Linked DNA regions of Homo sapiens. The protein of the gene in region 4 purifies or fractionates together with the protein of the main gene of each other region. This does not show direct contact. Each region holds a gene or a part of one and is shown on either strand. Other genes may lie near its edges.

Region 1 (3,864 bases), on a different chromosome or scaffold from region 4:
TGTGATAGTTAAACTGATGAAAGCCAAAGATATAGAAAAGATCTTGAAAGCAGTCTGGGAAAAAAAAAAACAGCAATTACATACAAAGGAATAGTGACGAGTATATGCCTACCTTTCTTCAGAAACTATGGAAGCCAGAAGACATTGGAAGACAGTCAAATGCCAAAGGAAAAACCTATCAACCAAGCATTCTACATCCAGTAAAGCTGTCCTTCAAAAATGAAGGCAGCCTGTAATCCCAGCACTTTGGGAGGCCAAGGCGGGCAGATCATGAGGTCAGGAGATCGAGACCATCCTGGCTAACACAGTGAAACCCTGTCTCTACTAAAAATACAAAAAAATTAGCCGGGCATGGTGGCAGGCGCCTGTAGTCCCAGCTACTCGGGAGGCTGATGCAGGAAAATGGCGTGAACCCGGGAGGCAGAGCTTGCAGTGAGCCAAGACTGCACCACTGCACTCCAGCCTGGGCGACACAGCGAGACTCCGTCTCAAAAAAAAAAAAAAAAAAAAGGCAACATAAAGACAATTTTTTAAAATTTTATTATTTTTTAAATAGTTGTGGGTACATAGTAGGTGCATATATTTATGGGGTACATGAGATATTTTGATACAGGCATGCAATGTGAAATAAGCACATCACAGAGAATGGGGTATCCATCCCCTCAGGCATTTACTCTTTTCAATTACATTCTTTATTTTAAAATATACAATTGTTATTATTGACTATAGTCACCCTATTGTGCTATCAAATAGTAGATCTTATTCATTTTTTTTTCTTTTGGTACCCATAAATGATCCCCAATTCCCCCAAAAAACATTTTTAAATGAACCAAAACTGAGAATTCTACTCGAAGACCTAGATCATGGCTTGCTGCCTCAGTGCTGAGCAGCTTGGCTTCAGCCACCATGAACGGTTCCTTTCCTTGCTCCAGGACACCAAACTCGTTGCCGCAGATGCTGCAAATCCTTGTGGTGTTGAAATGACCCAGTATCCTGTGCTAAGAAGGGGAACAATGCCCCACTCTGCCTGTGATCCACTATAGTTGCACCACAGCAGAATTTCTAGGGCACCAAAGTGTTACCTGCAGCCTTTTGCTCCCCAGGGGGATCATACACTGTAGGGTGGTCTGGCCAGGGAAGTGCACCTAGCTGTACCATACTTTACTGGGAACTACAAACCCCCTTCAGATATCTGTCCTTGTTCAATTCAATTTGTAATGCCTGGTTCCCTCTTCCTTTGGATGTATTCTCTCTCAGGGCCCCACAATTCTCTCTTGCAAATTGCCCTCTCTTGCAAATTGCAAATTGCCCCTCTCTTGCAAATTGCAATTCCCTCTTGCAAATTGCAAATTCTATCTTGCAAATTCTCCTGCCCTTAAATTCTGGTTCTGTTTGGCAGAGAATGTTAAAACTTCAGTTATGGACATGGTATACGCTCTTATCTCAGGAGGCTTCTCAGCATCTGAGGCAGATACTGCTGGCTACCTCAAATTTTCTTTTAACCTTAACAGAACCCAAATTTTTAGCTGGACACATTACCACTTGTATTAGTTTGTTTTCTGTTACCTATAACAGAATACCTGAAACTGGGTAACTGACAAAGGAATTTATTACAGTTATGGAGGCTGAAAAGTCCCAGGTTGAGTCCATATCTGGTGGGAGCCTTCTTGCTGGTGGGGACCTTTGTGGCACCCTGAGGTGGCAAATATTCATATCGACCCCCAGGAAACTGATTTAACAGGGAGCAGCAGTTCTCTTTTCCCCCAGTCCTTCGTCCTGCTGCTTAGACTATGGATGTGATGGCTGGATTCCAGCAGCCACACTGAAACAGAAGGATGAGCTGGAAGGATCCCCGGTCTCTCATAATTTCATGGAACTGTCACACCAGTCCTAGAACACCTACTTCCCAAAGTATTTTATATAAAATAAACTTATCTTGCATACCCACTGTCTTAGTCAATTTGTCTGCTATAACAAAATGACTTAGACTGCTTAATTTATAAACAATAGATTTATTGTTCACAGTTCTAGAGGCTGAGAAGTCCAAGATCAAGACGCCGGCAGATTTGCTGTCTGGTGAGGGGCTCCTTGCTCACAGATGGTGCCTTCTCATTGCATCCTTACATGGCAGAAGGGCAAGAGGAACGAACAAGCTTCCTCAGGCCTCTTTTATAAGAGCACTAATCCCATTCACGAGGGATCTGCCCTCATAACCTAATCACCTCCCAAAGGCCCTATCTCTTAATACCAACATGTGAATTTTAGACACAAACATTCAGACCACAGCACACATAGCCCACAGCAACCATGTAATGAGGGAAACTTAGGAGAAGCAGGGTTGTGGGGGGAAGGGGATTTCATTGTAGAAGTTGGTATTGAACTCGCCAGTTTTTTTTTTTGTTTAAGAGATAGGATCTCACTCTGTTGTCCTGGCTGGAATGCAGTAGTGTGATCACAGCTCACTGCAGCCTCAAACTCCTGGGCTCAAGTGATTATCCCACCTCAGCCTTCTGAGTAGCTGGGATTACAGGCACACACCTCCGTACCTGGCTAATTTTTAAACTTTTTTTTTAAAGATGGGGTTCTATTTTGCCCAGGCTGGTCTTGAACTCCTGACTTCAAGCAATCCTCCTGCCTCTTCCTTTCAAAGCGCTAGGATTTACAGGTGTGGGCCACTGCACTTGGTCCCAATCTTTCTAGTTTTACTGGTAATTCAGCCCCCCACCCCCAGAACCCACTATAGAGAAGTGGGGCTGACTGAGGGAAGGAATGGGCTTAGCCAGTTCTACTCTCAGGAATAGAAGGAAAGCAAGAAGCCCAGCACTAACCTGGCCTGGGAAAGTGATGGAGGCTTCAGCCCCAGCAAGACAGAGTGTGGAGTCTCACCTGTGGCACCACTGCTTTTTCTAAGCATGCTCTGAAGTCTCTAACCTTCTCAATATAACAGAGCAGGTAATGTTTTGGACACAATTTGGAAAGCATATTCCTGTGGGGAGGGGATTATTTTTGTTTTGTGTGGTTTTTGGCTAAGAAGGAAGTTATTATCAGGAGCAATTTCCAATTATATACTTCACTGCTTCTGGCCTATATCCAAGATCTCTATTTAGCCAGTCAATGATGACGGGTGTTCTGGCAGAGATCCAGGACCAGCCAGTAACAGAACTACTTGGATCAACATCTATAATATTGTTCCAAATTGCAAGCAAAGTTAATTCCCCTATTCCTCTGAGGTTAGGGGAAGAACTTGTACATTTGTGTGTGTGCTGCATTCTGTGGAGATGGACAAATCTGAGCACTGCTCTCCACCCACTGCTGAGCCTGTATGACCTATCCAGGTAGCACATAGCACAATGGCCGAGAGCAGACTCTGGAGGCAGATTGCCAGGCTCAGGCCACCCCTGACAGTTTGCCGGCTGCCCTTTTGCAAGTTCCTCTACCTTGGGTGTCCGTTTCCTCCTCCAACATGAGAGTCACAATAGTAAGTTTCTCCTAGGGATGCTGAGAAGGCTACATGAAGCAATGTACAGAAGGGACAAGTATCACTATCAGCTCCCTCCAGCAGAATCCTGGGATTTAAGCAGGACCCAGTCTTGCATCTGAATGTCCAGTCAGCAATCTCTCTCTTCCATTCTCCTCCGAGGCAAACCATCTTGGCCCTTAGGCATCTTCTGCCTTATACTGACAGGTGTGTATCCTGGATAACAACCAGGACTGCATCCCCCTAAGGGTAAGGACTAGGTCTGATACTCATCTAGTGGACACTCAAATATTTTGCCAGTTCTATTATTAAGAATTTTATTTTTGAGCATTCTATATACATTTATAAGTGTACATATGATGTATTTTATGTACATGGATTAGGAA
Region 2 (7,038 bases), on a different chromosome or scaffold from region 4:
CACTTTAAACTGCTCAAAACTGGAGGGAGCTGTCATAATTTTTCCTAAATACATAAACTGCAAAATGAGATCAAAACATTCTGCACTAATTTTCATGTTGCTGAGATTCAGTTGTGCAGTACTATGCTGATGGTTCATGAAAAACATTCTAAAATAGGAGCTACAGGCAGCTAGAACTGCCTTGTGTGCTTGAAAGTAAATGTCATCAATTGCAATACAGCAGTCACAGAGAAAACCCCATTCTCTTTGGTTGTTTAGCTGCTGAAGGACATAGCTGCTGTGGCTGGGCTTTGCCATCTTCTGTTAATTAGAGACCTATGTAAAACAAAAATATTAAAGTCAAACAAGATATAGAAAAGCACTTGACAAAATTAACTTTTATCATGATTTGTGACTTGCATGACTGCTATTACAATCAAGAAATTAAGAGCTTTCCATTCTAATAAAACTCAATAATATATACTTGAATCATTTTTTAAATTTGAAGATGAAGACATCCAGCCATTTATTCAGGCTTTTCATATTGAACAAAGGCATCAAAAGCAAAAGACAGTTTTAGTTTCATTACAACTCTTGGGGGGAACATGTACACTAAATTTGAACAGAAAAAAAGACATTAATTTAAAAATACTTGAAGGAGGCCGAGTGCAGTGGCTCACGCCTGTAATCCTAACACTTTGGGAGACCGAGGCAGGAGGATTGCTTGAGCTCGGGAGTTTGAGACCAGCCTGGGCAATAGTGTGAGACCTCTTCTCTACAAAAAAGTTTAAAAAATTAACCAGGTGTGGTGGCATCACCTGTAGTCCCAGTTACTTGGGAGGCTAAAGTGGGTGGATCACTTGAGCCCGACAGGTAGAGGCTGTAGTGAGTTGCGTCACGCCACTGCACTCCAGTCTGGATGACAGAGCAAGACTCTGTCTCAAAAGAAAAAAAAAAAAAGAAAACAACTCTTGAAGGATATGAGTAATGAAAGTAAATAAAACAGCAACTTAAACTGAAAGTTAACAATTAGATTGTAAAGTATGAAAAACTTATTAAATGATTAATACTAAGGAGCTATTGCTCATTTTTTAAGTGTGAGAAAGGTATTTTGATTGTGTTAAAAAGAATCCTTATCTTTTGGATATATATACTTTAGTATTTACAGATGAAATGATACATCTGAGATATGCTTAAAAATAAATGGGGTGGGTGTGGGGAGCAATAGATGATACAAGATTGGCCATGTGTTGTTAAAATAATCTATTTTAAAAACCCTATTAAGCCTGGGCAACATAGCAAGATCTCGCCTTAAAAACAAAACAAAACAAAACAAAAAAACATTAGCCAGGCATGATGATGCACCTGCAGTCCCAACTACTCGGGAGACTGATGCAGGAGGATGGCTTGAGCCCAGGATTTTGAGGTTGTGGTGAGCCATGATCACGCCACTGTACTCTAGCTTGTGTGACAGAGTGAGACTCTATCCCAAAAATAAAAATTTAAAAAAACCTTATTAGGGCTGGGTGTGGTGGCTCACACCTGTAATCCCAGCACTTTGGGAGGCCGAGGCGGGCGGATCACGAGGTCAGGAGATCGAAACCATCCTGGCTAACACAGTGAAACCTTGTCTCTACTAAAAATACAAAAAAAATTAGCCAGGCGTGGTGGTGGGCGCCTGTATTCCCAGCTACTCAGGAGGCTGAGGCGGGAGACTGGCATGAACCTGGGAGGCGGAGCTTGCAGTGAGCCGAGATCGCACCACTGCACTCCAGCCTGGGCGACAGAGCGAGACTCCGTTTCAAAACAACAACAACAACAACAACAACAACAACCTTATTAGATTATATAGAAATGGCACCAAACAAGTTTGATCAGTGCCTTTGTCTTTTCTTGAATTATCAAAGAAGCAATAATTCTATAGAGTTAGAATGTGTCTCATGTTGCTCAACATGCATTTCAGGGTATAAAGAAGCAGTGGGTTTATTTGAGAAGGTATTTTATTTATCCTTAGAGTGTAAAGTTTTCTTCCTTTTTTTTTTTTTGAGGCAGGGTCTCGCTCTGTTACCTAGGCTGGAGTGCAGTGGCATGATCATAGCTAACTGCAGCCTCAATCTCCCATGCTCAAGCAATCCTCCCGCCACAGCATCCAGAGTAGCTGGGACTGTAGGCACATGCCACCACATTCAGTTTTTTTTTGTTTTTTTTTTTTTAATATTTTAGTAAAGACAAGGTCTTGCTATGTTGTCCAGGCTGGTCTTGAACTCCTGAGTTCAAGCGATCCTCCTGCCTCGGGCTTCCAAAGTGCTGGGATTGTGGGTGTGAGCCACTGCACCTGGCCTCTTCTATTTTTTTTTTTTTTTAATTGTTAAAAGAAAAAAGTAAGGCTGAGCGCGGTGGCTCATGCCTGTAATCCCAGCACTTTGGAAGGGTGAGGCTGAGGTCAGGAGTTCGAGACCAGCCTGGCCAACACGGTGAAAACCTGTCTCTACTAAAAATAAAAAAAGTTAGCCAGTCGTGATAGCGGGCGCCTGTAATCCCAGCTACTCGGGAGGCTGAGGCGGGAGAATCGCTTGAACCCAGAAGGCGGAGGTTGCAGGGAGCAGAGATTGTGCCACTACACTCCAGCCTGGGTGACAAGAACGAGACTCCATCTCAAAAAAAAAAAAAAAAGTAGCAAAAAATTCAAACATAGAGGCATATAGAATAAAAACACACCTCAGATCACACACCTCTTTTCAGAGGTAACCCCTCCAAACACTCTGGATTATATACCTTCAGATTTGTTGAGATGCACATGTACATAGTTAGCATATTGAGTACCTATGAGATGCCAGGCACATAGTTTTGCTTTTGTTGTGTTTTTTAACCTAAATGGTATCATACTATATATATATATATATATATATATATATATACCTCTCTGCAACTAGTTTTCTTCATTTAACATTAGACAATATTAGTGGGCATTTAAGTATTTTTAGTGTAGGGAGCTGACTTTGGATAAGGAAGAAAGGAGAGGAAGTATTAAAAGCACTAGAAATCCTATCATATTATAAAGTTAAAATAAGATCAAATTTTAGCCTCAATTTTTAATCCGTATACATAAAGCTTCAGAATCTATCTTCTACTTAAAAATAAGTTCCTATGCAATTTGACTGAACTTAAAAAGAACATGTAACAAGCTGTTTAGAGAAATAAAATGTTCACTCTTCAAGCTCTGTAGTAGTAATTAAGGGTATCTACGTTTACGTACTTCTATTTGCTTTTTATCCATTCCTCAGCGATCACATATGGGTCATACGCCCCTTTTACTACCTATATGCCCATCCTGCCACCTCTAAGACATAAAGTTCCATAGCCAGAGATACAGGACTGGTGAAATGAAGATGGCTTATGATGAAACCTGCTGCCTTCTTAAAATTGCAACCACTGCACCTTTTCTGGAAGCCAGATCAAGTTTCAAGTAAGTACAATATTTCAAACCTCTGTAACTCAGGTATCTGTAAAAAGCTGTGAGGAATCATGTTCAGTATGTATCTAAATACAAAAAGCAATGTATGCACAAAGATAGTCATTAATGAGTTACTTCTCATTTGAATGCCTAGTAAAAAAAGGAGTCTTAAGGTAAATCTACGCCCCAGAATTCACTGTCATGTGGCAGTGAATTAAAAATTGTATTTCTGGGCCAGGCGCAGTGGCTCATGCCTGTAATCCCAGCACTTTGGGAGGCCAAGGTGGGCGGATTACCTGAGGTCAGGAGTTCAAGATCAGCCTGGCCAACATGGTGAAACCCCATCTCTACTAAAAAATATATAAAAATTAGCCGGGCGTGGTGGCACATGCCTGTAAACCCAGCTACTCGGGAGGCTGAGGCAAGAGAATTGCTTGCGCCTGGGAGAGGGAGGTTGCAGTGAGCCGAGATCATGCCACTGTACTCCAGCCTGGCTGAGGGAGGTTGCAGTGAGTCGAGATCATGCCACTGTACTCCAGCCTGGCTGACAGAGCAAGACTGTCTCAAAAAAAAAAAAAAAAAAAAAATATATATATATATATATATATATATTTCTAAATGGCAACTACAGAAGTGGGAAAAATGTTCAAGATGGAGAGCCAAATAAATAAACACAGGATACATAATTATGTTAGAATTATATAAAACAAATCCACGCCACAACCTTATTCAAAAGGTGGGGGGAAAAAAGATGAAAAAAATACACAAAAATGTTGACCCAAGCCCGTTTTAAGTAGGATGAAATTTCTATGTCTATAGTCATTTTTCTAGGATTCAGAGAGACATTTAATAAATAATAAACTATAGAGTAAGAGGCAGAGGGATAGGTATTATTTCTAAAAAACCAAACTTTCTATTAATAAGAGTAATTCAAGAATGAAACAAACTTGTTTGGAGAATGAGTACCCATATTAAAGCAGGAACAGAATGCTATTGAGGACAGTATAATAAGTGAAAAGAGCATGGGCCTAGGATCAGACAGACCTGGCTTCTTATCTAGCTTTGCCACTTTTGGGAACTTGCTTATCCTCATTGACCCTAAGTTTCCTGAACTGAAAAGGTAGGGATAATACCTCAAATACAGTATCATATATGAGGATTCACAGAGGCAATGTGTAAAATGCATCGTGCTTGGCATGTAATAATGAAAGTAATAGTGGATGTTGTAATGGTGGTGATGCTTATTTAAGCATCAGGTAAGTTTGAGTTGATAACCTTAAAATTTCCTTCCAAATAACAGTCCATTAGAAAGCCAGTAGTTAATCTATAAAAACTTTCAAGTATTAAATAGTCCAGGCTTGAAATAATGATATAAAGAGCACAGAAGTTCCAAAGACCCTTTCTTATCTAGATGAGCAGCAGTTTTATCATCAGCAACCAAAATTAATACAACTACATAGAAGATCAATATGATAGGCACATCTATAGCTATAGTCACAATTCAACTGAGTAAAAATACATATTCTTTTATTAACATAAAACACTAAAACATTTAAATAAGAGCACTTATAGCATTTTAATGCACATTTATTCATTCAACAAACATTTACTGACTACCTTTGGTATACCAGGCACTGTATAAAGTGTTGATCATCAGCAGTAGCACAAGTATTCTGTATTCATTTGAGGAATTTTTACTTTTCCTAGATCAGTGATTTCATTCAACACGTATTCTGCAAAGCGCCCACTCTACAGAAGAAGGCATCATGCTGTAGTAGAAAGAACAAGTGCTCTCAGTCAGACGGATCACAGTGTGAATCCCACTGCATCCATGTTTATACTCCTATATTCCCCCTATAGAGCTGGAAGCTGAACAAATGGAAGCTGAACAAATGCTGTGTCTAATTTTTAATCCTAACACAACAGTTTTTAGGCTGACCTAGAATTGTAGTTTAAGTAACATTATTATGCAAATGTCCAAGTTCTGAGTAAAACTGATTTTAGGCACAGTAACTTATAATAGCAATCATTGACACATTAGTACCAGAAACTCTGTCCTTGTTACACCTCATTCAGAAAAGCTTTTTTCTTAAATTTTAATTATTATTTTTTTGAGACAGGGTCTTACTCTGTTACCCAGGCTGGCATGCCATCATAGCTCAGAATGTCCTCAATAGCATTCTGTTCCTGCTTTAATATGGGTACTCATTCTCCAAGCAATCCTTCCACCTCACACCTTCTGAATAGCTAGCACTACAGGCATACGCCACCATGACTGGCTAATTTTTGTATATTTTTTGTAGTGATGAGGTCTTGCTATGTTGCCCAGGCTGGTCTCGAATTCCTGGGCTCAAGCAATCCTCCCACCTCAGCCTCCCAAAGTGCTGAGATTACAGGTATAAACCACTGTGCCTAGCCCAGAAAAGCTTTAAGAAGGATTACTACACCAAAAACAGGTAGAGGAGTATGCGGCAGGGGAGGAGGGATCTAAATTCCTGTGAGACTTTTAGCTTATCTCTTGAAGATAATTTTTTCATTAAAAATTTTTGAGGCCGGGCACCGTGGCTCACGCCTGTAATCCCAGCACTTTGGGAGGCGGAGGCGGGTGGATCACAAGGTCAGGAAATCGAGCCATCCTGGCTAACACAGTGAAACCCTGTCTCTACTAAAAATACAAAAAATTAGCCGGGCGTGGTGGCAGGCACCTGTATTCCCAGCTACTTGGGAGGCTGAGGCGGGAGAATGGCGGGAACTCGGGAGGCGGAGCTTACAGTGAGCCAAGACTGTGCCACTGCACTCCAGCCTGGGCGACAGAGCAAGACTCCATCTCAAAAAAAAAAAAAAAAAATTATGAGGCATTCACTTTCATTAAATTATAATTTCACTCAAATTCCAAGAGGAGTTTGCTCTTTTTTCATTTTTTTGACCTCTTTATTAATGCTGCCAAAAAAAGTTAATGAACTTTATGTTCTAGTAAAGCCTATAAAAGGTTTTAAGTAAATGGACAGCTTGTATTTCAGCTGTTCTTGTTTTTACGACTGAAATCTGTGATTGCTTTTGTTTGTACTACTAGCTGCATCACTGGTAGGACAAGTTTAGCACAACTAGAAGTCAAGGGCTCAGGTCTGAGAGCAGAACCTCCAATGTGACTCAAAGGACTTAATGTCATTTGGATAAGGAAAACAAGCTATATAATGCCAAGAGTTACACTAAGGCTAGAAGGATACCCACTGTGCAGAACTCTAGCAAGAATTAAGGAGTTAGGTGATCCAAAAAGTTTTATACTGGATTTTTAAAATTTTAGTCTGAAAAAGTTTAACGGCTCATCTCAAGTTTAAAAACAGTCACCAAGCACATTAAGCATATTAAGTAATTTAATCATACATTTTTAGAGCTTAGAGAGATCTAATCTAGTCTAACATTCTTATTCCATAGAAGGCAAAGATACATGGTTTTTAATGTATCAGGGTATAGTTAACTGTGCTGAAGCACATACTAGGACTAAGGACTCCTGACCACCCAGATAGTAATAACCTCTATATATGGCACTTCCTTGGTACTATACAGTATGGTCTTCCGGAAAGAACACTAAACAAGGACAGGGC
Region 3 (7,038 bases), on a different chromosome or scaffold from region 4:
TTTTTTGTTTTGTTTTTTTCTGGGTTATTTATTTATTTATTTATTTATTTATTTGGCTGTTAAGATGTTTGAGTTTCTTGTATATCCTAGATATTAATCCCCCGTCAGATGAACAGTTTGCAAATATTTTCTCCCATTCTATAGGCTGCCTTTCATTCTGTTGGTTATTTCCTTTGCTGTATAAAAGCTTTTTAGTTTACTATAATCCACTTGTTTATTTTTGCTTTTTTTGCCTGTGCTTTTGAGGTCTTATTTATAAAATTTTTTCCCAGACCAATGTCCTGAAACATTTCCCCTATGTTTTCTTCTAGCAGTTCCATAGTTTCCTGTCTTACATGTAGGTCTTTGATTCATTTTGAGTTAATTTTTGTACAGAATAAGAGGTGGGGCTCTAGTTTCATTCTTCTGCATATGGATATCCTTTTTCCCAGAAACATTTCTTGAAGATACTGTCCTTTCATCAGCAAATGTTCCTGGGACCTTTCTCAAAACTCAGTTGGCTGTAGATATGAGGATTAATTTCTGGGTTCTCGATTCTGTTCCTTTGGTCTATGTGTCTGTTTTTACACCAGTACCATGCTGTTTTGGTTACTATCACTCTGTAGTATATTTTAAAGTCTGATAGTATGATGTCTCCAGCTTTGTCCTTTTTGTTCAGGATTGCTTTGGCTATTCCAGGTCCTTTATGGTTCCATACAAATTTTAACTTTTTTTTCCCTATTTCTGTGAAGAATGTCATTGGTATAGAATGTCATTGATAGGACTGCATTGAATCTGTAGATTGCTTTGGGTAGTGCCCACTTGCAGTTTAATCCAAACGTAACTTCTACAATGTGGATGTTAATTTTATGAAAGCATAATTTTTAAAGTTTAGACTATAATCAAAATGTTCTGTATAGACTCTTAGGTGAAAGTGAAGAGGGGGGCACCACCGTGTAAATGTTCCTTCATCTTTTTACATCTGAAAATAGTATTTTTACTCTATTCAGTTTCTTCTTTTTTTTTTTTTTTTTTTTTTTTTTGAGATGGAGTCTCACTGTGTGGCCAGGCTGGAGTACAGTGGCACAGTCTTGGCTCACTACAATCTCTGCCTCAGGGGTTCAAGTGATTCTCCTGCCTCACTCCCGAGTAGCTGGGATTACAGGCACACACCACCATGCCTGCCTAATTTTCATATTTTTAGTAGAGGTGGGGTTTCACCATGTTGGCCAGGATGGTCTCAATCTCCTGACTTCGTGATCTGCCCGCCTCAGCCTCCCAAAGTGCTGGGATTACAGGCGTGAGCCCCTGTGCCTGGCTCAGTTTCTTATTTATAAGATATCCAACAGTTCTTAACCATTAATTAGACTTTAAAGATTATTAATTTCAAGTGCACATTAATGTGTTTTTTAAAAGAACAAGAAATAATTAAAAGAAACATTTCATTTTTACTTAGCATTCAAATTGCACTTAATCTCTTTCACTCATAGAGTGGATTTTTATTAACATTTACAGCATCAGGCAGACACATTTAGCCATGATCCTGAAATCGTGAAGTACTATACAAAGAAATAAAGCTATTTATTATAGTAATATCCACTCATTTTCTGATGCCCTGAACCCAAAAGTGAAAATATGTGCCTTTAGACCCTCACTTCAAATCTAACTGGATGTAATATCACAAATAATTCTTAGCAAGTTTATGTGGTTCCCAAGGATATAGTAGATTAGAAGGGCAGGGCAGGAAGAGGAAGGGCAAGTGGGTAAAACCTGAAAAGCATATACGTTATGGAAACATACTATCATGTCACAGTAACAGATATTCAGAATAGAATGTAGAAATATAATTGCTGGCCAGGCACGGTGGCTCACATCTGTAATCCCAGCACTTTGGGAGGCTAAGGCAGGTAGATCACTTGAGGTCAGGAGTCCAAAACCAGCCTGGCCAACATGGTAAAACTCTGTCTCTACTAAAAATACAAAAAAAAAAAAAAAATTAGCCAGGCATGGTGGCAGGCGCCTGTAATCCCAGCTACTCGGGAGGCTGAGGCAGGAGAATCACTTGAACCCGGGAGGCAGAGGTTGCAGCAAGCTGAGATCGCACCACTGCATTCCAGCCTGGGCGACAGAGTGAGTCCGTCTCAAAAAAAAAAAAATGTGTATCAAAAAAATGGCTTGACATAAAAACAGTTTTGGTGCTTGTACTTGTTATCTACTTAAAAAATAAAATATAAAAGCACCTTATTCCTTGAAACATAAATGAAGCATGAATGTGTCAATATTCAACTTGACTGAATAATGTTTTCACAGTAGTGCTAGAATATATGCTTCAAGACAAGAAAGATTGAACTGTCTTAATCACTATTGTATCCTTCACTTAGCACAGGGCCTTGGTACATAGTAGGTGTTGAATACTGAATACATTATTTCATTTCTCACATTAACCCATCAAGGTAAACACACTTACCCCCATTTAAAGGTAAGGAAACTGTGGTAAAATGTGCTTATCTTGAAAGTGGGAGAAGAGGCATAACTTTTGACTCCTAACAGTGTTATTTTGATCACCAGAATCAACATTAACAGCATTTTCAGAATTTTTTTACCTATAATTTCAAATTTTTAGTTTTTAGATATCAAATTTCATTAGTCTAAAATTATCCTCACACAAACAACACCCAACTAAAACAATATACAAAATTTAATGCTATAAAACATCTCAAACACACATCGTTATAAATATCATCCTATTACCAGAAAAACATACCTTTTAAAAACTAATCAACTTCACTCCATCTACCCTAAACTATCCTTTTAGTAATAATAGCCAAGTTCTGGTTTACCTAAATGTTTCTTAAGGTACTATATAAATTTTACACCACCCAATTTTTTTATTAAACACCTTCTATCCAATTACTTCATTAACAGATGCTATGACAAAAGGGCACAAAAGAAGTAAAGAACATAACCATATATCTCAAGAACTTTAAAATCTACTTTGAATAAGACATGTATACACGAAACTGTGGCAAGTTGCTCCCAAAGCAACATACAAAGAGGAAGGAACCAAAAATAACTGAGTATCTCATCTGAAAATGCTAGGCATTTTCATATGCGTTACCTCTATTAGTTCTGAAAACTTTGTAAAGTAGATATTGCCATCTTCATTTCGGAGAAGAAAACTGAAATTCAGAGAGGTGAAATGACTTCCCAAAATAAAGGGCAAATGAGGGTCTGAAGTCCAAGTCTATCTGACTCCAAAGTTCTATCCTTTTTAAGCTACACCATGCAGCCTCCCACATATAGATTACAGGGTATAGACAACATTTATAAACGTTGTAAGGAAAACAAAGAAAGACATCATTGAAGAGAATAATTCCTAGGAAATATTTTATTGACAAAGTCAGTCCTGAGCTGTGTCTGAAACCTAAGTGTAAGATTGCTAATAACAGAAAGATTAATGTCACAAAAATTTCTAAATAAAAAATCTAAATATTTTCCTTCTTTGATCATTATTCTATTTCTTATTCTCTTGCATTTTTATGTATAACCTACCCTCCCCTATAATCATTCCCATTATAAAGACAGAAAAAAATTAACTAGGTCTAATATCCTATATTTCTCTTTCCTGCTGGTCAGAATGCTAAAAGATAGAAACATATACTGCCATGAGAGCCTTGAAGTGATCTTAGAGAGTGATTTCTTCATTTTAGTGGTAAGAAAAGCTGAGAGAGGGTTACACAATATACTGAAGGTTACAAAACTTTACTAGCCAGAATAGTATGAGAACATAGTTCTTACAGTGTTCTTTCTATGATTCAGTGCTCCTTAAATTTTTTGCCATGAAGTGTCAATAACGCAGAAGAATGACGAGATCTGGAGCTCACTTGAAATATAATGGGCTCACTTGAAATTTCTTTGAAGTTTCTAATTTCATCTTAAAGCCTCATATGAATTCTATACTTTGTGCCTAATTTACTTATGCTTATCTTAATATTAAAGTTATTTAAATTAATACCATCAAGTAAAATTGGTACTTAAAAAATTATTATGTTTGTTCCTGTGGCTTAGATTCTAAGCCTTATAGGTATCCCTTGACACAATGTCATGTACTCCAGTTTGAGAAGAATGCCCCAAATTATGGTGACAATTCCTTCATCATATTTCATTTCCTTGCTGCTTTATTTTTCAAATTAAGAATTCTTTTTAAAGCATGGTAAATTTAATTACACTCTTTCGAAATGTATAAATACTGACAAAGCTACTGTTAAAATTGTTGGGGTTGTTTAAACACAAAATTTTCAAGAAGCTCTACTTAGTTAAAATTAATTTATTAAAAACAATTTAGTTTATAAATTCATTAAAGAACCTGGATAGAACTTCTACCTAGCAATACTTCATTAAACATTTCCTTTTTGAGAGGTCACTCAAAAAAACTTTTTAATGAAAGTGAGATTAGATGCCATTCATATTGACTACAGTCCCAATTACTTTTAAGTAGGTTAAACAATCTTTTCTTCTTCCTTGGTATTTATCTTCTCTGCCCAGATGTGAAGGAAGAAATCCTTTGTGGTTTCACTACTTTCTTTTTCAGGATCTTTTTTTAATACCTTTCAAATTCCAAATATGCTTCATTATTCTTCAATCCTATTTACAGAAACAGAGTAATAGATTTTATCTATTTTACTGATTGTTTTTAAAAACACCCTGTTCAACTTAGCCAGGAATCTATCACTAGCAAGATTAAAAATAGACTCTTATTCGTCACTTCCTCCCTAAAAACATACTATTGACTTTCCACTATATGCCTGCTTGAAGTCAAATAGTTGTATGTGTTTTTAATGTATTTAAAACTCTTATTGTATAGCAACTAATACTTTTTCAAGTCCTTGGCCAGTGATGATAGTATTAAGTATATTCACTTTGAAGTCAAATTGTCACATGTGTTTTTAATATAGTTAAAATTCTTATTGTATAGCAACTAATACTTTTTCAAGTCTTTGACCAATGATAATAGTACTAAGTATATTCATTAGAAATTAATTTAACATTTTCCTACTTTGCCTAAACATTTAATTCTCTAATACATTGCTTTCAACAAAAAATTCACAAAATAACAATCTATTTCAAGAAATAGGATTCCTTTCAAGTCATATAGATCAATATTAAAAACACATATTAAAAAAACAGCTAAGTTAGGCAGAACATACAGTTCCACTTAGTAGGATTTAATAGTAATTTGCCTACTTAATGACATCTATTCTCAAAACAGATATAATATGTATATATCCTTATCAATAAATGGGCTTTTCAGAAAATAATATTGACACATAATATACCAGAACAGGTTTCAAGAATGTAAAAAAGTAAATGCTTAAACAATTGCAGAGTTATGACAGTAGCATCTGCTTGGCTCAAGCTTGTTTTTTTAATACTTTGAATGACTTCATTTATGAATAACTGAAATACTCCCTACCTGTTACTGTAATATTTTGATGTTCTCATTTACAATTAGTCTTTTAACTAATCTCTAGTACCTAGTCTTATATTTGTTCCAGTATCTCTTACTGATTTCAAATCAACAGGTTAGTGCAATTAAAATGTATATTACTACAGCAAAAATATGATTTTTAAAAATGCCCTTTCCCAAAAATTTGTACCTTTTTCTCATTCATGCCCCTATTAGTGACAATTTAGGTAATGGATTATCATCTTCAGCTAAGTACCTTGGTATCAAACATTAGCTGTAGCGAACTAATACGATATTCAGTAGCCAATGGAATAATCTATATGATTCTACATTCTATACATACATGTAGTCATTATTTTCCTAGTAATGTTTCTGTAGAGCTTTTACAGGTAAAACTAGTATGCTGCTTTGATAAACAGCTTCTTTCAAAATAGAAAAAAGTATGTGAAGAGTGACATATTCCAGATATAGTGAGCCTGCTATGTAACTGGTAAGATTGACTTCAAGTATAATCACTACTAAAGCTGTTAGAAAAAAATTCTACATCTGCACCACATCCTGTTTCTAGTTTTCAAGTAGCAGATACTTGTTTATTTGCTTCATGTTACTCATTACCATATTACCTCTAGTCTCTTCTATAAATAGTAATACAAGTAGACAACTAATTAGACACAGAAATATTTCAAACTAGACCTTAGGTCACCAAACACCATGTGACTTTCATTTCTGTCAAGTCAACATAAGACAGTTTCGAACAAAGTTATTGTTGTTAGAGATGGACAATAATATTCAACATAAAATGTTTCCACATACAGCCTATTTTATATACATATATGTTCTCATTTTCCTGATTTAAAAAAAAGTATAATTAGAATATCCATGTTACATTAATTATCATAATCTCATTTTCAAGTGCTTAATAATTCAAAATAATGAAGCAAAAAAATGCTTCTGCTAAATATTTCCCTTTCTACCATTATTCTTTCATAAACCTAATACAATTAATTTATTTAATGAGAAGTCTCAACAGACTATGTACTAAATTTGCCAAATTTACAACTGAAATGAAGATAACGAAAACATCTAATGGATGAAAAGTTTCAAAGAACAAATATCTTTCAACAGGTAATAAAAAATGTCACAACGTCAATTAAAAACTTTAGAAATGACAATATGACTTCACAAAATACTAAGTAACATATTGTAAAATGTGTGTGTGGGTAGATCACACTTTCCACTATCTTTGTAAAATAGATATAGATAAAATACTTAAAATTAGTATTACGAAGCATGCCAAGGAGATTTTCTAAAAGAGACCCTCCACCTTTTAAGAGCCACAAATAATAATTTACAAAAACCACAGTTCAACTCAACTTTCTTAAGTATGAAATCACAATACTTCAGTTCAGTAAAGAATAATTCTACATAGTAAAACTGCAAAACCTCAAGTTCTAGAATACACAAAATTGTACAGCACAGCTTCATTTTTGTAAGTTCTTTCCCCCAAATCATATGGTATATCAGGCAAGACCACAGAAATTAAGCTGTTGATAATGAAACCCACTAGTTACAGACTTGAGAAAAATCAGTTT
Region 4 (7,038 bases):
GCAACTTACTTGGGCTGTACTGCCACAAGGCTTCGAGGACAGCCCCCATTACTTCAGTCAAGCCCAAATTTCTTCCTCATCCATTACCTATCTCGGCATAATTCTTCATGAAAACACATGTGCTCTCCCTGCTGATTGTGTCTGGCTCATCTCCCAAACCCCAACCCCTTCTACAAAACAACTCCTTTTCTTCCTAGGTATGGTTAAGTACTTCCGCCTTTGGATACTAAGTTTTACCATCCTGACTAAACCATTATATAAACTCACAAAAGCAAAGCTAGCTGACCCCAAAGATCCTAAATCCTTTAGCCACTCCTCTTGCCATTCCTTAAAAACAGCCCTAGAAACTGCTCCCACACTAGCTCTCCCTAACTCATCCCAACCCTTTTCATTACACACAGCCGAAGTGCAGGGCTGCGCAGTCAAAATTCTTACACAAGAGCCAGGACCACGCCCTGTAGCCTTTCTGTTCAAACAACTTGACCTTACTGTTTTAGGCTGGCCCCCACCCCCATGACTGTATCTCTCTGATCCACCTGACATCCACTCCATTTCCCCATATTTCCTTCTTTCCTGTTCCTTACCCTGATCACACTTGGTTTATTGATGGCAGTTCCACCAGGCCTAATCACCACTCACCAGCAAAGGCAGGCTATGCTGTAGTATCTTCCACATCTATCACTGAGGCTACTGCTCTGCCCCGCTCCACTACCTCTCAGCAAGCTGAACTCATTGCCTTAACTCAGGCCCTCACTCTTGCAAAGGGACTACGTGTCAATATTTATACTGACTCTAAATATGCCTTCCATATTCTGCACCACCATGCGGTTATATGGGCTGAAGGAGGTTTCCTCACTACACAAGGGTTCTCCATCTTAATGCCTCTTTAATAAAAACTCCTCTCAAGGCCACTTTACTTCCAAAGGAAGCTGAAGCCATTCACTGCAAGGGCCACCAAAAGGCATCAGATCCCACTGCTCAGGACAATGCCTATGCTGATAAGGTAGCTAAAAAAGCAGCGAGCATTCCAACTTCTATCCCTCACAGCCAGTTTTTTTCTTCCTCATCTGTCACTCCCATCTACTCCCCCATTGAAACTTCCACCTATCAATCTCTTCCCACACAAGGCAAATAATTCTTGGACCAAGGAAAATATCTCCTCCAGCCTCACAGGCCCATTCTATTCTGTCATCATTTCATAAACTCTTCCATGTAAGTTACAAGCCACTAACCCACCTCTTAAAACCTCACTTTTCCTTTCCGTCGTAAAAATCTATCCTCAAAAAATAACTGCTCAGTGTTCCATCTGCTACTCCACTCCTCCTCAGGGATTGCTCAGGCCCCCTCCCTTCCCTACACATCAAGCTCGGGGATTTGCCCCCGCCCAGGACTGGCAGATTGACTTTACTCACATACCCGGAGTCAGGAAACTAAAATACCTCTTGGTCTGGGTAGACACTTTCACTGGATGGGTAGAGGCCTTTCCCACAGGGTCTGAGAAGGCCACCGTGGTCATTTCTTCCCTTCTGTCAGACATAATTCCTCAGTTTGGCCTTTCCATCTCTATACAATCCGATAACAGACCGGCCTTTATTAGTCAAATCACCCAAGCAGTTTCTCAGGCTCTTGGTATTCAGTAAAACCTTCATACCCCTCACCATCCTCAATCTTCAGGAAAGGTAGAACAGACTAATGGTCTTTTAAAAACACACCTCACCAAGCTCAGCCTCCAACTTAAAAAGGAGGACTCTGTCAAGGATAGAGCCCAAAAACTCACCAACCAAGCAAGTAATTACACTGAACCCCCTTAGGCACTCTCTAATTAGATGTCCTGGGTCCTCCCAATTCTTAGTCCTTTAACACCTGTTTTTCTCCTTCTCTTATTCAGACCTTGTGTCTTCCATTTAGTTTCTCATTTCACACAAAACCATATCCAGGCCATCACCAATCATTCTATATGACAAATGCTGCTTCTAACAACCCCACAATATCACCCCTTACCATAAAATATTCCTTCAGCTTCATCTCTCCCACTGTAGGTTCCCACGCCGCCCCTAATCCCGCTCGAAGCAGCCCTGAGAAACATCGCCCATTATCTCTCCATACCACCCCCAAAAACTTTCGCCACCCCAACACTTTACCACTATTTCGTTTTCTTTTTCTTATTAATATAAGAAGACAGGAATGTCAGGCCTCTGGGCCCAGGCCTGCACGTATACATCTAGATGACCTGAAGTAACTGAAGAAAGACAAAAGAAGTGAAAATGGCCGGTTCCTGCCTTAACTGATGACGTTACCTTGTGAAATTCCTTCTCCTGGCTCAGAAGCTCCCCCACTGAGCACCTTGTGACCCCCCACCGCTGCCCGCCAGAGAACAACCCCCTTTGACTGTAATTTTCCACTACCTACCCAAATCCTATAAAACGTCCCCACCCCATCTCCCTTCACTGACTCTCTTTTCGGACTCAGCCTGCCTGCACCCAGGTGATTAAAAAGCTTTCTTGCTCACACAAAGCCTGTTTAGTGGTCTCTTCACACGGACGCACATGACATTAAATATATGCAATACTTCAGCCCAATGTCCTAACCTGTTAAAATTGTTTTTACTTTGCTTTTCCTATCTAATATGTTGGGCACTATTTATAGATATTTTGGCCAAGCAACCAGTTGATTTCTAGGACATTCTCTATTTCAAGTATGCCATCTGGTTAGCCTCCGAACAGAAACCATGATGTTGCTTCCCCTAATTGCAATTTTATCAACCAGCTTCGTTTATCAGACTTTCTTCCCCAGAGGTGATAAAAATAAAAAAACCTTTTTTTTCCAATTTATGTTTTCCTCCTTTTGGCTTGAAAATATGTGTACCATCTCAATTGATAAATTAATAAGTCACATGGTAGGAATTTTCCATGTCAGAGTTGCAAATGGTTTTGTTAAATTAACTGAGGAAACGTGGTTAGCCTGACATCTCTCAAGATCTATGCAGGAAGATGGACCACAAGAGAAGGAAATCTGTAAATATAATGAATTCATATGTGTTGAGAGGCAGGAGGCTTTAAAACACCATTAAATCCATTAAAAAAACAAAAGGTGGAGTGAGCACTGTGAAATGTGTGTGACCCAAGGGTCGAGTTCTGGTTCAGCTCATCAGCTGTGTTGCCCCCGGAGCACCTTCACTTCTACCCTCCTTCCAGGAGCCTTAGGGGTTTTGTTTGTAAAATTAGGAAAATCCTTGGTGAAACCAAGGACAAATCTGTAGTGATAACTACAGATCATCCCTAACTTATGAATCTCATTTGGGCAGTTAGGCCAGGAGACAGCCCTACTCTAGGTTTAGGAGGCATGTGGCTACTGGGTGTTCCCTGAGGAACGGGGACCACGTACTCAGTGAAAAGCCACGCCCTTAGCAGCTCAAAACACCACCTGAAACAGCCATATTTTTATCAGTCTGTAAAGGCCATTTGATCCGATTAAATCACATGTGAACTCACTGCAATTTAACAAGAAAGCAAGTACACAGATGAGCCATCCAGGGTGCTCTCCCAGGTGTGGACAGCAGCTGTGACAGCCCAGAGCCACAGCACGAGCTTGCCTGTTCCCTGGGTAAGTGCAGCAAATCCTTCCAGCAACAGGGCTGGGTACAGAATGGAGCATGTTTGCATCGAGTCCTGCCTCCTGGCAGCCTTCAAAAACTCTCCCAGAAAAAAATAATATGAACGTTAAAATTAAATCACCAGTACACGTGAACCTGGCACACACCATGGAGAAGGTGTGCTGTCGCAAAGAGGAGACAGGAAAATAGCCACCTTGTAACCAACCTTCCCAATCTTCCACAGGGAAATCCTAGCCCAGCACCCAATACAGGGCCAGGCACAGAGCCAGCACCCAGTACTGCGGAAAACTGGCCGTAAGGGATTTGCTTTTAGTAACATCTTGTCATTAACATCCTGACATGCTAAATGAGGTGGAATGTCATGGCAATTTTCTGGATAATTCCATTGAAATTACCTTTATGTGTGAAACGACAGAGTTTTATTTCCCTACCCCTGGTAGAGTCATTTCACTAGATAGGGACACAACCAAGGAATGACCTTACAGTTTTGCTACAACATCACTGTACCTATAACTATAACAATATCACTGTCCTATAACTATTACAACGTCACTGTACCTATAACTGTAACAATATCACTGTCCTATAACTATATCACTGTCCTATAACTATAACAATATCACTGTACCTATATCACTGTAACTACATCACTGTCCTATAACTATAACAATATCACTGTCCTATAACTATAACAATATCACTGTACCTTTAACTATAACTATACCACGGTAACTATAAGAATATCACTGTCCTATAACTATAACAGTATCACTGTCCTATATCACTGTACCTATAACTCTAACAGTATCACTGTACTAGTTTCCTATAACTATAACAATATCACTGTCCTACAACTATAACAGTATCACTGTACTAGTTTCCTATAACTATAACAATATCACTGTCCTATATCACTGTACCTATAACTCTAACAGTATCACTGTACTAGTTTCCTATAACTATAACAATATCACTGTACCTATAACTATAACAGTATCACCGTACTAGTTTCCTATAACTATAACAATATCACTGTCCTATATCACTGTCCTATAACTATAACAGTATCACTGTACTAGTTTCCTATAACTATAACAATATCACTGTCCTATATCACTGTACCTATAACTCTAACAGTATCACTGTACTAGTTTCCTATAACTATAACAATATCACTGTCCTATAACTATAACAGTATCACTGTACTAGTTTCCTATAACTATAACAGTATCACTGTCCTATATCACTGTACCTATAACTCTAACAGTATCACTGTACTAGTTTCCTATAACTATAACAGTATCACTGTCCTATGTCACTGTACCTATAACTCTAACAGTATCACTGTACTAGTTTCCTATAACAGTATCACTGTCCTATATCACTGTACCTATAACAGTATCACTGTACTAGTTTCCTATAACTATAACAATATCACTGTACCTATAACTCTAACAGTATCACTGTACTAGTTTCCTATAACTATAACAATATCACTGTCCTATATCACTGTACCTATAACTCTAACAGTATCACTGTACTAGTTTCCTATAACTATAACAATATCACTGTCCTATATCACTGTCCTATAACTATAACAGTATCACTGTACTAGTTTTCTATAACTATAACAGTATCACTGTCCTATATCACTCTACCTATAACTCTAACAGTATCACTGTACTAGTTTCCTATAACTATAACAGTATCACTGTCCTATGTCACTGTACCTATAACTCTAACAGTATCACTGTACTAGTTTCCTATAACAGTATCACTGTCCTATATCACTGTACCTGTAACAGTATCACTGTACTAGTTTCCTATAACTATAACAATATCACTGTACCTATAACTCTAACAGTATCACTGTACTAGTTTCCTATAACTATAACAATATCACTGTCCTATATCACTGTCCTATAACTCTAACAGTATCACTGTACTAGTTTCCTATAACTATAACAGTATCACTGTCCTATATCACTGTCCTATAACTCTAACAGTATCACTGTACTAGTTTCCTATAACTGCTGCTCTAGGGGCATAACCACAAACTTAGTGGTTAAAAACAACACAAATTAATTATCTTACTGTTCTAGAGATTGGGTCTTACTGGGCTAAAATCAAGACATCAGCAGGGCTTCTTCCTCCAGGACGCTCCACAGGGAAACTCTTTCCTCGCCCTTTTCAACTTCTAGAGGCCGCCTGCATTCCTTGGCTCACGGACCTTCATCTTCAAAGCCAGCAGTGTAATACCTTCAAACCTCTCTCTCTGGCTCTGAGCCTTCCGCCTCTCTCTTTTTCTTATGAGCCTTGTGAGCACTCAACCCTGTGAGTACATTGGGCCCATTCAGAAAATCCAGAGTAAACTCCCCATCTCGAAGCCCGTAACTGCATGCCATTGACAGAAACGCTTTTGCCAGCTATGGGAACACACGCACAGGTCCCAGGGCTCAGCACAGGGACGTCTCTGGGGGCTCCTATTCCACCTACCACAATCACAAAGTGAAGTAGTCCTACAATTACCAATTTCTGAAAGGGCACAGGGCTTCAGTGAGAATCCAGATTCCACGTTACTCAGCACCTTTATAGCGGTAGGTGTTCCTCCGGGACTGTACTTTAATAGGCAATTGTTCCTGAATGGGAAGAAAAGAGGTTACTTTGCTTTCTGCACTTTGAGGGGCAGGGAGCAGTGCAGGTAACAGTTAGTATTAAAATGCACAGTGGAAAAACAATGACCCTGATAATGAGTGGGTTAGGGGTCTGCATTATTAACCTAATGGACATCCTTCCCCTCGCAAAGGGGTAAAGGAAAAGTTAGGGTGAGAATGAGGCAGGAGACTCCGTGACACTAAACCCTCATTCTATAAGCAAGGCCTATGTGTGGGGCAAACGGAACTTCAGGAAAAATGACACCAAAATTCGCTTCAGGAAAGCGAAAAATGACACAGACTTCAGAAAATGACTTCAGAAAAAATGACACCAAAATTTTGCTTCAGGAAAAAATGACACCAAAATTGAGTAGAGCATGGAGCGATAGACAGTAGAGACTGGGAAGGTGACAGAGAGGTGGGAAGGGGGCGGGCGTTGAAAAATAGCTTAGTGGGTACAATGTACATGACTCCAGTGATGGATATACCAAAAGCCCAGACTTTACCACTGTAAAATACATCAAAGTAACAAAATTACACTTGTACCCCATACATCTATGCAAATAAAAATAAGATTTAAAAATAAGGAAAAAAATCACAAGTTAATATCAAATTGTGATTAGCTCTATGAATGAAATAAACAGAGCTGAGTGTGACTTAAAAGAGAATGCTCAGAAATGGGCTTTTGGAGGGGACGGTATTTGAGGAAAGACCTGCAAGAATCAGCTTTGGAGAAGTAGGGGAAGAGGATGTCAGGCTTTGAAGATGCGG

What was found.
Region 1: the proteins of KLKB1 (region 4) and NCAPH purify together in Homo sapiens (affinity purification with mass spectrometry; 2 studies listed by BioGRID and IntAct, with this or other methods). This does not show direct contact.
Region 2: the proteins of KLKB1 (region 4) and ZBTB1 purify together in Homo sapiens (affinity purification with mass spectrometry; 2 studies listed by BioGRID and IntAct, with this or other methods). This does not show direct contact.
Region 3: the proteins of KLKB1 (region 4) and GPHN purify together in Homo sapiens (affinity purification with mass spectrometry; 2 studies listed by BioGRID and IntAct, with this or other methods). This does not show direct contact.

Annotation. Positions count from the first base shown.
Region 1 is NC_000002.12:96,373,749-96,377,612, reverse strand, and holds the end of NCAPH (condensin complex subunit 2), read right to left. Parts: 3' UTR 522-3,864; downstream 1-521. UniProt on the Homo sapiens protein: Regulatory subunit of the condensin complex, a complex required for conversion of interphase chromatin into mitotic-like condense chromosomes.
Region 2 is NC_000014.9:64,514,764-64,521,801, reverse strand, and holds part of ZBTB1 (zinc finger and BTB domain-containing protein 1), read right to left. Parts: intron 5,203-7,038; exon of another isoform or gene 5,051-5,202; intron 3,446-5,050; exon of another isoform or gene 3,264-3,445; intron 316-3,263; 5' UTR 298-315; coding exon 1-297.
Region 3 is NC_000014.9:66,511,111-66,518,148, reverse strand, and holds part of GPHN (gephyrin), read right to left. Parts: intron 1-7,038. UniProt on the Homo sapiens protein: Microtubule-associated protein involved in membrane protein-cytoskeleton interactions. It is thought to anchor the inhibitory glycine receptor (GLYR) to subsynaptic microtubules.
Region 4 is NC_000004.12:186,237,470-186,244,507, reverse strand, and holds part of KLKB1 (plasma kallikrein isoform 1 preproprotein), read right to left. Parts: intron 6,253-7,038; coding exon 6,143-6,252; coding exon of another isoform or gene 6,110-6,142; intron 6,104-6,109; exon of another isoform or gene 5,463-6,103; intron 5,344-5,462; exon of another isoform or gene 4,014-5,343; intron 1-4,013. UniProt on the Homo sapiens protein: Participates in the surface-dependent activation of blood coagulation. Activates, in a reciprocal reaction, coagulation factor XII/F12 after binding to negatively charged surfaces.